4 separate regions of the Homo sapiens genome follow, and regions 1, 2 and 3 are each linked to region 4. Evidence: fine-mapped expression QTL. A gene starts in region 4. Each other region holds a variant in brackets. All regions are shown on one strand. Distances are between the middles of the regions.

The links. PIP is the estimated chance that this variant, and not a neighbour inherited with it, causes the effect.
Region 1: its variant is fine-mapped to the expression of GCOM1 in whole blood (TOPMed, PIP above 0.99). The same link has a PIP of 0.9 or more in blood mononuclear cells and lung.
Region 2: its variant is fine-mapped to the expression of GCOM1 in skeletal muscle (GTEx, PIP above 0.99). The same link has a PIP of 0.9 or more in adrenal gland.
Region 3: its variant is fine-mapped to the expression of GCOM1 in whole blood (INTERVAL, PIP 0.98).

Annotation. Positions count from the first base shown.
Region 1 is chr15:57,561,164-57,565,462 of GRCh38, reverse strand. No RefSeq gene overlaps it. Among named protein-coding and RNA genes, the nearest start is that of GCOM1, 29 kb to the left of the region's middle. The variant C/A (reference allele first, on the strand shown) is at 1,901.
Region 2 is chr15:57,632,342-57,636,640 of GRCh38, reverse strand. It overlaps GCOM1 (GCOM1, MYZAP-POLR2M combined locus), which reads right to left. Exons shown (of 17, transcript NR_104371.3): 7 at 4,082-4,207; 8 at 2,900-3,028. It overlaps MYZAP (myocardial zonula adherens protein), which reads right to left. Exons shown (of 13, transcript NM_001018100.5): 7 at 4,082-4,207; 8 at 2,900-3,028. Among named protein-coding and RNA genes, the nearest start is that of MYZAP, 43 kb to the right of the region's middle. The variant C/G (reference allele first, on the strand shown) is at 2,228.
Region 3 is chr15:57,626,647-57,630,945 of GRCh38, reverse strand. GCOM1 (GCOM1, MYZAP-POLR2M combined locus) reads right to left here. Exons shown (of 17, transcript NR_104371.3): 6 at 1,092-1,244. MYZAP (myocardial zonula adherens protein) reads right to left here. Exons shown (of 13, transcript NM_001018100.5): 6 at 1,092-1,244. Among named protein-coding and RNA genes, the nearest start is that of MYZAP, 37 kb to the right of the region's middle. The variant G/A (reference allele first, on the strand shown) is at 1,915.
Region 4 is chr15:57,590,014-57,594,312 of GRCh38, reverse strand. It overlaps GCOM1 (GCOM1, MYZAP-POLR2M combined locus), which reads right to left and starts at 2,409. Exons shown (of 17, transcript NR_104371.3): 1 at 2,204-2,409. It overlaps MYZAP (myocardial zonula adherens protein), which reads right to left and starts at 2,409. Exons shown (of 13, transcript NM_001018100.5): 1 at 2,204-2,409. The coding sequence starts at 2,278. RefSeq lists a silencer at 2,411-2,520.

The DNA of each region.
Region 1 (4,299 bases), 29 kb after region 4:
GAGTTCCCCTCCGCGATGTGAGCAAACAGAAGAGAGAAAACGCCATCTCATGCCAGGATCCTTTCAAATAGGTCTCTTTCCCAGCCAAGCCTACTTTCTGCAACAGTTTTTCCCTTACATACGAAGCTTCTAGCAAAACACCCAGCATAGAGTGGGAGCTCAGTGAATATTTGTTTCATGAATTAATAGCAACATTTCTTATGATGGCAAACAAAAAATAAATAACTAAAATGTTCTACAATGACCTACTGGGTCATGCACATTTATGGTATGCCCATAACTAGGCAAGTCATTTAATATTTCTATGCATAATTTTTTTTGCTAAAATAGAGTAATAGTACCTATCTCACAGGGTTATTGTGATGATTAAATGAGCTTAGGTATATAAAACAAATAGAATATTGCATAGCATATAAAAATTACAAAACAAATGTTAACTATTAGTATTATTATTCCATGGAATACAGTGCAATTATTAAAACTGTGTTGAAAAAATATATTCTTTTGAAAAAAATTTTTGAGAAAATATCTTTTTATAGCTGAAAAAATTCACAATAATTTAAAAAAATAAGCTATGTAATAGCATAAACAGTAAGATTCCACATTTTGTGAAATAAACATCCATGTAAAGAAAAAAGTGTACACAAATATACATAAAAATATTTATAGTAGTTATTTCTAAATAGTGAAAGCAAGGGGGACTTTCTTTATTATTAATTGCTTATCTATTTTTCAACAGTCAGTATAAATTATTTGAGTAAGTATAAAAATTAAAAATCCAATTGAATCAGAAAAGCATTCATATTATTTGACACACTAATTCCAATTTGAGGATACTATTCTTTAAAAAAAGTCCCAAGTACCAAAGAAAATATTGCCTATAAGAATTAGGTAAAGTGCCAGGCGCGGTGGCTCACGCCTGTAATCCCAGCACTTTGGGAGGCCGAGGCAGGCGGATCAGGAGGTCAAGAGATCGAGACCATCCTGGCTAACACGGTGAAACCCCGTCTCTACGAAAAATACAAAAAAATTAGCTGGGCGTGGTGGCGGGCACCTGTATTCCCAGATACTCGGGAGGCTGAGGCAGGAGAATGGCATGAACCCCGGAGGCGGAGCTTGCAGTGATCCGAGATCGCGCCATTGCACTCCAGCCTGGGTGACAGAGCGAGACTCTGTCTCAAAACAAACAAACAAACAAACAAGAATTAGGTAAAGTGTGATGATTTTTCTATAAATTATAGAATAATATATAATGAGTTTAAAAGATTGATGTTCAAAATAGGCGTCAAAAAGCATTAGAGTAACGCTTGAAAATATTAGAAAATGCTATCTATATTAAGTTAACTGGGATACAAATGACTAGTATCTGATCTCAAGCATATAACAAAAGTAATCATTGGCAGAAACAATAGCTGACTCTCTGCCCTTTGTTGAAGTTAACTATATTTGTCACCTTTTGACCAGAACAAGGTGGATTCTTTCTCAACAATTTACAAATTAGCCAGAAACCCCTAAACTTAATAGAACTTCAGTTCTTCCAGGTGGAGGGTTGTCCTGTGACATAAAACTAAAATCATTAAATCTATCCAGTCTAGGAAGAGAAAAGCCCAAGAGGAAATATGCTGTCCATGTATGAAATCATAAACGTTCAGGTAAATATAGCCCTGTTCATTTATCAAAATGTGAGACAAACAAAAGTTATTTTAATTCTATCAGTATTTGTCAGGCACCTGCTACAAACAAAGATGAATAATGAGACAGACTTTGTCCCGGAGAAGCTCACCACCTAATGATGTAGGAAAAAATAACTATAATCAGCTAACCACAGTCCGGAAGCGCTGCAAGAGAACAAAAGACCACAGGAGCCCAGGGAAGGGGGAAGTTTGGATTTGAAGCATCA[C/A]CTGGGACGTAACCTTGATGCTAAACCTTTACACTAAAGCATGAACATGGTTTTGGTAACCGGCAGACTGAATGGTCAAATTCTAAGCAGGGATGCCGTCCTTCACTGAACCACTGATGGGCACTGGGGGTAGCTGATCACTCTTAGGGCTGTGTCCCTGTGCACTTGCAGAATGTGTCAGCATCTCAAGTTGACAACTTCTTGAGAAGTTGAGGGAATGATGTGGAAGAAGGAAAAGAGCTCAACAGCCCAAATCCAAGAAGCAGATCTTTAAGCGCAATGCAGTGTTTTAAAGCCTGCTATAGGAGTACATGAGAGGGGGACCACACTTAAGCACAGCCCATTTAAAATGCTTTAATTGCCTATCTGTGCAATAAGACTGAACCAAATGAATATTGACAAATCCGCTAACATAATCTAGTCTTGCCTTGCATTTATAAAGGTTAGGACCCAGAATTATAATGTTCTGTTTAATTTCAAATGCCTGCTGTCTGACAGGGGCTTTCTCCCGAGAGAGAAAGGCGTGGTTCTTTCCCTCAAGGGGCTCCCACCCTGGTGTGAAGAGACACACACATCACAATGTCAAAGCCTCGAGGGAGGCACGGGCCTGCCTGGGGATAGCCAGAAGGTCCTGCTCCCACCAGCACCTTCACTTTTAGAGCAAGGAGGGAGTGACCAGCATGGACTAGACAGAGGGGGAGAGGTCAGGAGTTAACTCACAACCAATGTTAAAAATGGACTTAAAGAAGAAAAGGATGTTAGCCTGGAGAAGAAAGAACTTAGAAGGGGCCTAAGAGCCTTTTTGACTATAGAGCCACAATGAGGAAAATGGGGAGAGTGGGTCAGTGCCACACATCCCCAGCAGCAGGCAGAGCAGAGATGATCACATCTAATATCACAATCACTTCTGAAATTCTACAAAAATCCACAAAAGAGAGTACAGGAAGAAACCACACACAGGGCCAACAAAGGATGGGATGAATTCAGGAAGATAGGAGAGTGGGGGATGAACTTCCACCGCTGGGTAATAAGGGAAGCAGGGACGTGAGGACAGACGTTCATGCCTTCCCACAGGAGGCCTTGGAGCTGCCGACAAGGCATCTCCCAGATGACGGAGCAGGCGTGGCAGGACGCCATCTCGCTCAGGGCAGCACCTGGTTAATGTCAGCACCGGGTCTGGTGAGGGCTGGTCTCTGCTGCGACATGGCAGGAAGTGTGCTGTGAGATCTGGTTAGAGGATGTCAAGAGGACCCCCTTGCCACAGCCTAACCAGTGTGTTCTGGACCCCACGTTTCCCTTTCCAAACTCTAATCCATCCTATCATTGCTCAGGGCTTTTTGATTCTGCTCCTTCCTCCCCTCCCCACACACATAGAACCTTTTATTCCAAAATCTAGCAGTACATCATTGGTTAGTAGAAAATAACTCTCAGAGCCGGGCGCGGTGGCTCACGCCTGTAATCCCAGCACTTTGGGAGGCCTAGGTGGGTGGATCACTTGAGATCAGGAGTTCGAGACCAGCCTGACCAACATGGAGAAACCCCGTCTCTACCAAAAAATATAAAATTAGCCAGGCATGGTGTCGCATGCCTCTAATCCCAGCTACTCAGGAGGCTGAGGCAGGAGTATCACTTGAACCTGGCAGGTGGAAGTTGTGGTGAGCCGACATCGCACCATTGCACTCCAGCCTGGGCAACAAGAGTGAAACTCCTTCTAAAAAAAAAAAAAAGGAAGAAAAAGAAAATAACTCTCATAACTTAAAAACAAAAATCAACAAACAAACCCCCCCCTCAAAAAAAAATCCTATAACATAAACTTCCCAACCATCTAAAAACCCAAACTCAAAACGTGTTTCTTTTGTCTTCCCTTCTTGAAGGAAGTAGGTCTGCACGGGCCTCCCCATCTCCTAGAGCTCGTACACAGCTATGAACCTGCTCTCAACAATGACTGGACACTTCCTCTTGGTTCATGGAAAAATTTGCTCGTAATTTTCCAGTCTGACTCAAGCTATCAGCTGGCGATACAGTTTTTTGCCAGCTTTACAGTCATTACATTACTCAAACAGAAACCCTTTTGCAGGTGACCTTGAAAGTTATTAAAAACTATTCTCTTTTTGAAGGAAGGACTTGTTGGGGGCGCCTGGTAGAGAGAGGATGTCTCGACTGGGTCTGGTGGTGACGACATCCTGGAAAAGGAACAAGATCCAAGTCACCAATCATTCTCTTATACAACGCATCCTTGAATTTTGAAGAGCCTGATATTGTGGATGGTTTGTATTGTCATTTGGCAGCAAAAATAACCTACATTGAATACACAGAAATAGTCCTCCACAGCCTCTGCCCGGGCTTTCCAGGTTTGACCACTGTGCAGTGCCTGTGATGCTCTCTGCTGCCACCCAGTG
Region 2 (4,299 bases), 42 kb before region 4:
AAATTTCCTTAAAATGCAAGTTTATCAAATAACGCTCACTAATTGGGAGATTATTTTACTTTAGGTCCTTCTCTAAGAACTAATGTTCCTCATCTTTATGTTCGGAAATTCCACCCAGCAAACTCTTACTAGCTACATAGATTCCAAACCTCTTTTCTACCAAATTATTAAAAGCAAATCTTTGAAAATTTAACTGCCACAACTTCTGAAGCTATAAGCAGTGGTATACCAAGAGGTAGGCCAAAGGGGTGGGGAAGCAGTCCACCTTAAGCAGGAAGAATATATTATCTCTGAAATATTTAAAATAACAAAGGTAGATCAACTTTGACTGGGGTTTTGTTACTGTTTTTAAATCTCTACAGCAAATGCACATTCTTATGGCCTGGCCTGAGCAGAACATTCCTCCTGCCCCTATGTGGTTGGAAGTTTTACATTAGCCCCGAAATAACAGTGATAAAAGCTTTCACAAGTGAATGCCTCCCTCCAAAAAGAAAAAAAAAACAAAAAACAAGAAAGAAAAAGGCTGTCATAAAGTAGAGCAAGGTCTAACTTACAGCACACTTTTAAAATTTGTTTTAAATTGAGGTACAATAAATCTTAAGTGTACACTGCACAATTATTTCTTACATTTGTAAACACCTGTGAAACCACTGCCCAGATTATGGCATAGACTATTATCTGTTCCCCAGAAGGGTCCCTGGTAGAGAACACTCCTTAAAAGATTTTTACTGATCAGAAAAAAAGGTGTTTGAAATACAGTGCTCAGCAAGAGAAACAGTAAACTAAGGCATATGGCAGAGAAGCCATTCAAAAGCACATGGTTTGTCCTTGAGCAAAATCCAAAACTGAGAGCAGGATACGTACACTGCCACAGCCCTGCCTAGGACATGCCGTTCACGTAGTGTGAGACAGCGATTTGGCCAGATTCCTGCTCTCACAGATTTATCCCTGAAAAGGAAACAGTGTAAATTGGCCTACCTAATGTTAGTTCAATAAATAGAGCATTTCTCTAGCCTAAATGGAAAGGAAGATTTAGAGAAAGGACAATACATTTCCAATCACTAAAGAAGAAGCCAACACCACTTGGGGAAGGTTTTGTGTTTCCTAAATGCTGGCAGGGAGGGCTGGCCTTACCAGCTTCCTGGCTCTACCCATTCATCCCACATGAGGGCTCCATGTGAAAATCAGTGGGGAAAGACAAGAAACTTTCAGAACCTCAAGACAGCAATGAAGATAAGCATAAAATGGGTCGTGCTAAAGACAACCTGACTCTGAGGGTAGACATTTAGGCAACCTCGTAACAGAGTAAAAATCATAGCCACAAATGATCGAACCCTTACTATATACGAGGAACCATGCTTAGCACTTGGCGTGGATTTTTCTCATTTATTGCTCACAAAAGCCCTAAGAATAAGAAGTACCATTATCAGCATTTTACAGAAGTGGAGACTGAGTTAGGAAAAACCAAGTAAGTGCAAACAACTACAAAGAGACACAAGATTCAAATCCCCAGACTGTCTGATTCTAAAGCCTATGTTCATGACCACTACCTGTGGTTTCTCTGTATGACGGCATCTCCCCCAGACCACCCTGCTATGCTGCCGGCTCACCTTGCTTCTTTACGCTGCAGAAAAACCTGCTGCCCAGAGAGAGAGCATCTGAGTTAACTGGGATCTTCTGCTGTTGTAGGAGGACAATAATGTGGGAGGAAGCTCACTCAAGCTCTAGAAAGCTCCCTTGTTGCCCAATCTTCACCACCACCCCCTCTGGTCAATACTAATGTTAGTCCTGACTAAGCCAATCACCTACTCTTCAATAAAAGATGGGATTCTGTTTTCCCAGGGGGTAGAAGGGAGATTGTAATTGACTCTTTAGTTTGCCCAAGTCTCTCCCAAGTAAAAAGCTAAAGAGCTAAAACGAAGCACCCAGTGAGCTCTGAAGCTCCACAGAACTGAATTTCATGCAGTTCCCATAGTGGCGACACCTCGCCTTATGAGGGGACAGTACAGGGGCTTATGCTGCAAACACCATTAGCTAAGGCGACCTCTTCTCAGCATCACATGAAGCCTGACAGTGACCTTGCTCTTGCTGCCCCACCTCTGCCTCCATCATCAGATTGGAGATTCTTGGCATCCCGAATGAGTCACAGGGTGCTAATAATGTCAGGGTCTTGGCAGGTCACTGCTCTCTGCAAACTCATATGCAGCCAGGGAGCCATTCCCAGAAA[C/G]CAGCCACAGACTTGGCCCTGAACTCCTGGGTCCAGAAGTCAGCCGTCACCTGCTAAAGGTCACCCATCCTTTCTCTTCCTTCTCTTCCTTCTTTTCCTCTTTCCTTTCTCCCACCACTTCCTCCCCTTCCTCCACTTCCTACTTAATTCCTGGCCTCTTCCCTTTCACTAGACAGGCTTCATTATCCCAGCTGAGCTCCCGCCTTCCTCAGGTTCCCCCACCACACTCACCAGCCTGCTTACAACACCTAGAGAAATGGGGCCTCCCTACTCTCTCAAGTCCCCAGCGTGTCAAGGAAAAGCCAACCCTTGAGACACATGCCCCAGAAACAACAGGGCTGCTGTGTTGATGTAACACCTAAATAGGGCTTGATAATTCAATGGATAAACTAAGTTCACACCTGGGGCACCAGCAAAGCAAGGCTGCTAAAATATTAATTTTTCTAAAGAATTTCACAAGTAATATTTTTTAAAAGCATCAAAATAGTTATCATGGGAAAAATGAGAACGTTGTTGGACTTCCTTATACTTTATTTTATAGCTTTGTCTTTTTTTTTTTAATTGCAAATTTTGGAGGTGAGAGGAATCCATATCCAGGGCCTCTCGTATCTCAGATGGACCTACAGGGAAAAGTTTGGGCAAGTGGGCAATAGGCCCAACGCTGTGTCCTACCTTTTCCATGCGCTCAATCAGCCTGTCCAGCTCCCCGATCCTCTGGTCTTTCTCCTCTAGGCTGATCTCTGCTGCTTGCATCTTTTTATTGGCTTCTTCAATCGCTTTCAGAAAACTATTGGTTTCTTCCTGCAAAAGAAATATACCCTCCTAAGTACAGGCATGGAGTACCGAGGCTACTCACCGGGATCCAATCAGCTCAGGCCTTGCTAGATCACGATTTCTCTTTAAAACATGACCTTGGAACCTGAAAGTGTCTCACAGATCATGAACTCAACCTCACGGTTCTGGTTCTCACCTATGAATAAAGATACATCATGTGGCTGGTTAATGGGCCTCACTACATTTTTTTCCCTTTTTTCCCTTAAGTCTTTATATCCAAAAGGTGTAAAAGAGGCCTACAAATGTTTAATAACATTGAGTAGATGCTCAGAATGTCACTGTATTTGCCAGAAGTGTAAGGGAATTAGAACCAGATCTGGAATTGAATGCAGAATTCCCAGATCCTTCTCCCATAATGCAATACATCAGCTCATTACTAACAAGAAAACCCAGTCAATCATCAGAACATGTATTAAGCCTCTACGGACACAGATGAGCCAGACATGGAGTCCCCGCCTTCAGGAACTTATAATCTCCTGGAAAAGCCAAGATGTGAGACGCACAGCCCCACTCTAATGGCAGGTATAAAAGAATTCCAAAGTAAAAGCAGAGAGAGAGTGAGTGAGCTTCCTAAGGACAGATAATGGTTCTGGCTCCATGACTGGAAGAGACTCCAGGCATGGAGAGAGTGGCATTTAAGGCTTTTAGGGAGCTTAGGCAAGATCAAAGATAGGGAAGGAGGAAATTTCAGGTAGAGAGAACCAAATGGAGGGAGGGAGGGCACAGCTGCGGGCAAGCCCAGGGTTTGCTTAGATGCTGGCAAATTGTCAGATGAGCTAGAAAAAGGTGTGTATTTAGAGACAGAGACAAGGGGCTATTCTGAGTAGAGACGGGGATGAATAAAGGCAGAGGGGAAGAGGGGAGGGGAGTGAATGAGCAGATGAATAATTCCTTGATCCCTTACCCATGGCTGAGTCTACTGACCCACCTCTAAGAATAAACACTACTACGTATACATCACCAACAATAATGAACCAACAATTCCCGGTAAGTTTACATCGGCAGCTACAACACACACACCAAAAGAGCCTCCTTCTCAGCACTGTGCTTCCTCTGTTCTTCCTGCAGCTTCTCCTCATACTGGCTGTACAGCTTCTTGGTCATCTCTCGCATCACCTCAGCATTGGCTTCTTGGGACGATTCCACCTACAACGAGACTCATTTCAGAACGACAGCTTTTGCAGGGCCCAGAGGAATTGGCAGCTTCCACTGCACATTTCATGTGGGGACTCACAGAG
Region 3 (4,299 bases), 37 kb before region 4:
CAGCCTACCCCTGTGAAGGGGCCCACACTTCCCAGTTTGTCTCCCTAACTAAATTACCAATAGTACCACCTTTCACTCCCTCACATATTCTGCTTTGAGCAATAAACTATGTGGATACGCTACTCATAAGATAGCCTAAGTCTGTGCTGAGCAAAATTTTCAAACCACAGACTTACATAAAAAGGAATTCATCCAAGATATAATTTATTAAGTGCCCTCCAGGAGCCATTCATGGATCTGCTCCTGTCACCGGGTAGGAAGTCTATCCACAGTTTAAATTTGGGAGGGGCACTAATGCCTCTAGGGCATTAGAAGTTCAGCTAAGGAATGCTCCCAGCCTAGGGGGCCAAATGGGACATTCCCCAGTGTCCCTAGTCACCCACCAATTTTCTTCTTGAGAATATTGTACTTGGGGTACAGCCCAAGTACCAGCTATTTGTGTGCCCCTCAGCTCTTTATTGTCAAGCCAAACAGAAAGGCCTTGGGACCTCAAAGAAAATCTAAACAGTGAAGGAAGAGATCTCCAAGGCTTCTGACGTCCCAGATCTGTGGGCATCCCAAGCGTCTTCTCAGTTACATAACAACAGCACCATGGTGAGTGTCTAAAGAGCCCTTGAAGGGACTGGAGGCCAAGAAAGGCATGCCCAATGGGGGCATTTATGGAGAAGCCCCAAACTGGGCCAAGCACGGTGGCTCACGCCTGTCATCCCAGCACTTTGGGAGGCCAAGGCAGGCGGATCACCTGAGGTCAGGAGTTCGAGACCAGCCTGGCCAACATGGTGAAACCCCTTCTCTACTAAAAATACAAAAATTACTGGGCAAGGTGGCACGTGCCTGTAATTCCAGCTACTCAGGAGGCTGAGGCACGAGAATTGCTTGAACCCAGGAGGCGGAGGTTGCAGTGAGCCATGATTGTACCACTGCACTCCAGCCTGGGTGACAGAGTGAGACTCTGTCTCAAAAAAAAAAAAAAATCCAATGAAGAAGAGAATGGAGAAAAGGAAATGGAAAGGTTGAAGATGGGAAGAGAAAAGGGAGAAGTAAAGAGGAGAAAAGTTCATAGAAAATAAATCTAGGCTTTTATACTCCACCTTCATTTTTAGCAGCTGGTTTTCAACTTGCGCTACCTCCAACTGCCTCTGCTTTTCCCTCAGCTTGTCCATGGATGCTTCATACGTCTGCTGCAGATTTCTGATTTGATCCTTAATGTTGCTGTTTTCCAAAGTCACATCCACGAGGGTTTTCTGTGAGGATGAAAATAAAAACAAAACCAGATCCGGTGGCGTGAAAACACATGGGCTGCACCACATGCTGGGGCATCCCCTTATCATTAAGCACTGGGGTAGCTGTCCTAGGCTACAGCAACTGCCAGTCTGGGACCCTGTGCTGTGAGGGACTGTGGGTCTCCCATGGTGGCCAAGAGGTCTGCCCCTGTAGCTTGGAGGGACTGAAAACCTCTCCCATACCATCCCATAGCTGCTGCCAACACCACTTGCCACTGCTTAGGATGGATGGAAATGGATTAAAATGGAGTCCTTCCAAGGAAAAGTATTATAATACATCATTTCACATGGGAAAAAAAACAGCTTTTGAAAATAGTAAGTATAGTATAATCCCATTTTGAAAAATATGTATAAGCATTGGTTCAAATATATGTTTATGCACTGGGGGGAAAAAGACCAGGAGGAAATCTGAATGATAGTTTTCACTATGTGATAGGGCTATGGGTATCTATTTTCTTATTTATTTTTTCTGTATTTCCCAAATTGCCACAATGAAATCAGAAAACAAAATACGAGCTTTATAGAATAGAGATATTCCTCTTTTTATTCTTTTTCTTTTTTTTTTTTTTTTTTTGTTTTTGAGACAGAGCCTTACTCTGTCGCCCAGACTGGAGTGCAGTGGCACGATCTC[G/A]GCTCACTGCAACCTCTGCCTCCCAGGTTCAAGCGATTCTCCTGCCTCAGCCTCCCGAGTAGCTGGGACTACAGGCGCCTGCCACCACGCCTGGCTAATTTTTGTATTTTTAGTGGAGATGGGGTTTCACCGTATTGGCCAGGCTGGTCTCGAACTCCTGACCTCGTGATCCACCTGACTCGGCCTCCCAAAGTGCTGGGATTACAGGCGTGAGCCACCACGCCCGGCCTCCCTTTTTTCTTAAAAGAGCTATCCCTTCTGCGCTTCTAGACTGCCTGCCAGGATAGTGACAATGTGACTGAGAATACTCACATACCTGCAAACATTTCACCTTCCTCCCTTAGGCAGAGAAGGGTAGTAATAAAGAAGTACTAAGGAACAGAATTTGGTAATGCAGACAAGTGATTTTTGCTCCAAGCCGCACAAGTAATTTTTGCTCCAGGCCGCACTGAAGCAAGGATGTTTAAATCAATAGTGTTGGCCATGCGTGATGGCTCATGACTGTAATCCCAGCACTTTGGGAGGCTGAGGTGGGAGGAGCACCTGAGCCTGGAGTTCAAGACTAGCCTGGGCAACTACAAAAAAAATTTAAAAACCAGCTAGACATGGTTGTGTGTACCTGTAGCCCCAGCTACCCAGGAGGCTGAGGCATGAGGATCACTTGAGCCTAGGAGGTCAAGGCTGCAGTGAACTATATCACACTGCTGCACTCCAGCCTGCGCAACAGAGCAAGACCCCATCTCTAAAAAAATAATAAAAAAGAAAAAGAAAAAAATGGTGGTGCTATTTACTGCTTTGGTTTCTACTTGGTTAACTCTCCTTAGAGATAAATGGCCTCCACAGAATCTGTGCCGTTGGAAAGTCATCTTCTACTGTGTCCCCAGTCATCTACAATTTCACATTAGAAGATGTGAAAACCCTGGTGTTGGGCACTGTTTCTAACACCTCTGTGCTCTTGTCTAGATGATCAGTCTCTGAAGCTTCCTCAATTCCTCAGCCTCTACTTTGGACAATATAAGCCTTTCACTCCTAAACCTACTTGAATCAAGAAAAAGAATTTCTGAAGGAGGTGATTAGATACTAAAGAAAATACTGAAGCTATTTGGAAGCATGGAGTCACAGAACATTTGAGCTTCAAGGGGCTTTAGAAACCACCTAGACCAGCCACCCACTCCCCCAGCCCCACTGGCTTCACAGATTCTACTCGTGTATCCACACAAAAACCTACACTCTGGTCCAAGAGACCAGGATTTTTCTAATCCTGGCTCTGTCACTAGGTAGGCATCTTGCTCATGTCATTTCTCTCTGTCGGCCTCAGTTTGTCTATTCATAAAACTGAGATCCTCTCAGTTCTTTCTAGCTCTGACATTCTATGGAATCAAACCAAGGGTCTGGTCTCCCTGTCAATAATAATGAAAGTGGACAGAGTGGGCCAGTGGAAGAGGCTGGGGTCTTGCATAAGGAAGAAGCCAGCTCTCTTCAGACTCGGTCCACCAGGTACTCGAGTGGTCCTCAGCATCAGTGCCTAACACCGTGCATCAGCCCTCTTCCTCTACCAGGTTGAGTTTCCTGCTGTGAGATGGCTTCTCCTTCTCCTTCTCCTCCTCCTCCTCCTCCCCCTTCCCCTCCCCTCCCCCTCCCCCTCCCCCTCCCTCTCCCTCTCTCTTTGTCTCTCTCTTTCTGTTTCTCTCAGCGGTTTTAGCTATAAGGCTCCTTTGGCTGTCCAGGACTAAGAGCCTGCATGATAACTAGGAATCAGTCAAGGTGCCTGGGTCAGAGCTGGCCCAGCTCAAACAGCTGACCTCTGCAGTAAATGCCAGAGTGTTGGCCAGATGGCAAAGCACAAGAATTGCCAGAAAATACTGGCAAATATATTTTTCTTTCTGGGAAGAAAAACCAGAGATGTAGTACAAATACCGACTAAGTCTGAACTCAGGTGAGATAAAGCCCTTGCTGGTGGGCTGGGAATGAGACAGCGTCCGAAAGGGGAGGAAAGGGAGCCTTGGCAAGCCCCCCCGACCACAGGAGGAAGGGAAAACAAAGGCTGCTGAGCAAACCAGACCCAGTGGGGCTTGGCCTGAGGCCAGGGGAAAGCTGGCATACACTCAAGAGAGCCAGGAAAAGGGTGGGACTCAGAAGCCCCACCAGAAATGGGCATCGCAGATGACCCCAAACACGAGGCCACCCAGACCCACTCCAGGACAGTGGCCGAGCCCTGCTGTTGTCACTGCTGCCATACCAACTGTTATCAGAGAATTAGGGGAAGTGGAGAATCCCAACATGAAAATTTATTTATCTAAAATTACTTATATAGAACCAGAAAGGATTTGAAATAGGTTTTGGAACTTTTGAGAGGAGGATAAAAAGATAAGAGCCAAATAAATT
Region 4 (4,299 bases):
AAAACCCTGTCTCCACTAAAAATACAAAAATTAGCCAAGCATGGTGGTGTGCGCCTGTAGTCCCAGCTACTCGGAAGGCTGAGGCAGGAGGACTGCTTGAACCTGGGAGGTGGAGGCTGCAGTGAGCCGAGATCGTGCCATGGCACTCCAGCCTGGATGACAAAGTGAGACTCCATCTCAAAAAAACATACCTTTAGTGAGAGGCCTTCCCCTGATGCCTCAGGAAGAACCTTTATTTTAGCTTCTACAGAACTTTGTAAACTCTTCACCCCACTATAACCATCACCACTTTGTTTGATGTTAGTTTGGGAAAATGTCTGCCTCTACAGGTAGGGCGGACCCCAATGCCAGCCCTTTACCACACAGAGAAAGGTTTATGAATGTTCAATAAATCAATTAATCAACATCTCACAGCTTCCCACCACACACACAATCCCCAGCACACACACAGATAGTACTTGTAACATCTGCAAATCATGAGCAGAGCTAGAAACCATAAAGATGGGCAGAACCCTAGACCCTTTAGATACCTTCCTTCCAGAAACAAGTACCAGTGTACCCAGGACAGCCCTGAATGGCCTGATCCCGAGCCCTGAGTTCTCCAGTCCAAAATACGTCTGCCATCTTATTCAAAAGGCAAAGTCTTTTCAAGAGTGTCACAATGTGTCCGACAGCAAAGCACCTATAATTAAATAAATATTCCAAAGGAAACGTTTGACCCAAAATCTTCAGAAATGTTATTTGTATACTAGTCACATTTGTATCAACCCACCGTATTAGGTTAGGTACCCCAACTAATCCCCACCTCTGGAAGGGAAGTTACAGAGAATTTCATGCAATTCATGCAGTCTGGTCACACATATGATCCTCTCAGGGCTCAGGGTTAGCTTTTCAGTGACTTCATTCTTTCTCAGTTGCAATTGTGTTCAAATTGAGAAAGATTTCCATAGAAAAATACAAACACCCAACTTAGAGTAAGGCCAGGACTGTGGTTGGAAACCCCCTTGGACCCAATGTAGATCTTACTCTATGATGCTAATGATTGGACAACTGGAGTTCTGTCAACCTTGGGCATGAGCCAACTGATGGATTCTGGGGTGTGTGTGTGTGTGTGTGTGTGTGTGCGCCTGTGTACACAACCTAAGTGTCTGGTGAGTGCACGCACACACACACCCCAGAATCCATCAGTTGGCCCATGCCCAAGAGTAACACACCTTTCTTCTAGAGCTAAGAAAGACAGCTTATAAGGTGACCACCATCACTCGCTTAAGGCATGTAAAAGCAAATAAGCAGGTCCAAGCCTGCACGCAGACAGAACCAGTGGGGGTTTTGCTTTGGACTTAACCACCTGTTTAAATCTTGAGGAAACACGATTACAGAAGTCTCAATCAGAGCAAAGAGGTACCAAATGATAAGTATTGAACATCATGATAAATGGAAGAACTAAAAAGCCACAAGCCAAGCCCCTGGCTGTGGCTCTAAGGTGCTGACCGTGTTAGAAAGATGGAGCATTTCTTTTACAGAGCATCTGGAGAGATGGGAAAAGATGCCACAAAGATCAAAAAGAAACAGCACTTCCAAAGGGAAACCTTCCCTGGAGATGCTGTCCCAAGCTTTCAGTGCTGCCATTGTTGTCACTGTGCTAATATTTAAATCAGACAGAAGAAAGTGGTTTACATAAACCGGAGTCCCACACAGTCGGGCTCCTGGGCGGCCGGCTGCTGTTCTGGTTTGCCCACCTTGGCTAACCCCACTCCAGAATTACCCTATCACTAGTGGATACCCTATCACTAGTGGACACAAGTGACCCCATCTTTCTTTTAATTAATGGAAGAAGGAAAGTTTGAGTTTTAAATACATTCATTACTTTTGAGTCTCAAGGTAGGGACACTGCACAAATGTCTTCCTTCATTTTTAAACTGGTGCCGCCAATAAACTCGGCTTGACAGAAAGGCAGGAAGGAGAGGAAATCTCTGGGAATTCCATAAAGTCCCCTAAGCCCTCTCCTACCAGCTGGTGGGCCCCCTGAAACCTCAAGCGGGAGGGTCACTGCCAGAGCCGGCACAGGACCGGGGAGTTGAGCCCAGGGTGGGGCGTCGGGGCCAGGTGCTGGCTCCCGAGCTTTCCCATCCCTAGTCCCCTCTAGAGGGGGCGGCCGGGATGGGGGAACGGGACGGCGGCGGCTCCCGCCCCCGCTACTCACCCTCCTGCTGGGCGCCCCGGGCGTCCTGGCGGCGCCGCCCGAGAGCAGGGTGACCGTGGACGTGGAGCGCAGCATCCCGCAGCGGCGGTCGGTAGCGGGCTGGACGCCGGCGTTCCTCCCGGGCAGAATAAGCGTGCGGGGCCCGCCCTGCGCGGGGGCGACGCGGGACGGCGCCGGCTACTTGCAGCCTCAGCTGCACCGCGAAGGCCCGGGGGTGGGGCCGGGGGCGGGGCCGGGCCGGGCCGGGGCGGGGCCGAGCGCGCTCACCCGACCCGTCAGGCTGCATTTTCTCCCGAGGGCGCCGACCCGGTTAAAGTTGAGCACCATCCTCTCCCAGGGCGCTGCGCCCTCCCAGGGTCAGTCCCAGGGCAAGAAGGAGCCCTGGACAGCCTGGACGCCCATGCTCTCTCTGTCCCCCGCAGAGTTGAGATCCACCTGCCCATTCAGTCTCACGACCTACCCCCACCCCGGACTGCCCCCTACAGCCTCTGCACGCCCTCGTATCACTGGGACCCTCACCCCATGTCATTCATTCAGTATTTCCTGAATGCCTATTATGCGTCCCCACCAGCAGCCAACCCAGTCGACTGGCTGTTGGCCTCGGAGAGTTTGCAGTGTGGTGGGGATGACAGGTGCCGGGCTGTGGTAGAAGAGGAGATACCATGTACTAAGGGAGCACACAGCCAACCTCAGAGGAGGTGATGACTAAGCTAAGACCTGAAATGCAAGTAGGAGTGGGCCACACTGCCCATATTTATTCAATGATTACTGTGGGCCTGCCTGGCGAGCACTTTGCGTGTGTTACCTCATTTAATCCTCACCATTGCCCTTTGAGGGAGTCACTGTTGTTACCTTGTATCCCCATTTTGCAGATGAAGACGCTGACTCACCTAGGGATTGAGCAACACAGCAGGCGACCCACTGGCCTCTCAGTGGCAAAGGTAGGATATGAATCCCCCAGTCCGACCCTAGTGCCTTGCTTGTCCCCTCTGCTGTCCCCTAACAGAGGGAGGAGGGAGTCCCAGGTCAAAAGAACTAGCATGCACAAAGATGGAAGGAAAGCAAGGGAAGGTATAAAATATGTTTCAAGAATTGGAAGTATCACAGTGCAGTGGGAAAACAGTGGAGAAGCAGCGGAAGGGAGCTGAGGACATCATGAGGAACCTGTGTGCTTAGCTGGAAATTTGGCCTTTATCTTGAGGACAAAGTGTTTTTCAGCAGGGAAAGACACAATCTCTGTCTTCAAAGCCCAGGTCAAGCACTGCCTCCCCACGGAGCTCTCCAGAAACCCCTTCCCCAAACACGCATGCTCAGGAACTTAGCAGCTCCGCGGGACCCTGTCTTCTGTTAGAGTTATCTATGTGTGTGCCTGTACCCTGTCCTTCTGGAGGGCAGAGGCCAGGCCTTGACCCTCTCTGAATGCCCAATGGCACCAACAGGGAAGATGCTGAAAAAAAAATGTTGCTAAACAGAATTACAGATGATCCTGTGGAACTCACTCCTTTTGTAGATGAGGAAACTGAGGCCGGTGTATACAAGTGACTTTCCCAAAGTTGCACAGCCTGTTCTTCACCATCCTCATCGTCATCCTCACAGTAGCTGTGCTTGTGTCCTAAGTGCTTTATATGCATTTTCTCAACCAATTCTCACAATGCCCCACAAGGTGGGCTACAGTTATCGCCCCTGTTTTGCAAATGAGGAAACTGAGGCCAGAGACATTAGGTTAATTGGTGAACAGCTGAGACTACACATCTAGTCTTCTAACCCAAGTCCTTCTGCTTTTCTGCTACACTCCTCTCTGCATCCTCCCATCCACCTATCCCTTCCAAAAAGAAAATTGTTCATGACAGGTTCCTTCCCATTCCACTTCCACGAAGCCCTCTAATCTACCCAAGTCTTTTTCATATTGTTAACATCCTATTCACACGGTGTTATATTTCTTTACAAAAGCAGCAGACAGCTCACTAGCTTGTGAGCTCTGTGTAGAAGCTGGATCTTGTTTACATCTCTGCCTGTCCAATATCTAGAGCAGGTAATTGACGTGTGGTAGTGCAAGTAAATGTGGAAAGAATGAAGAAATGTTATTACAGAGTAAG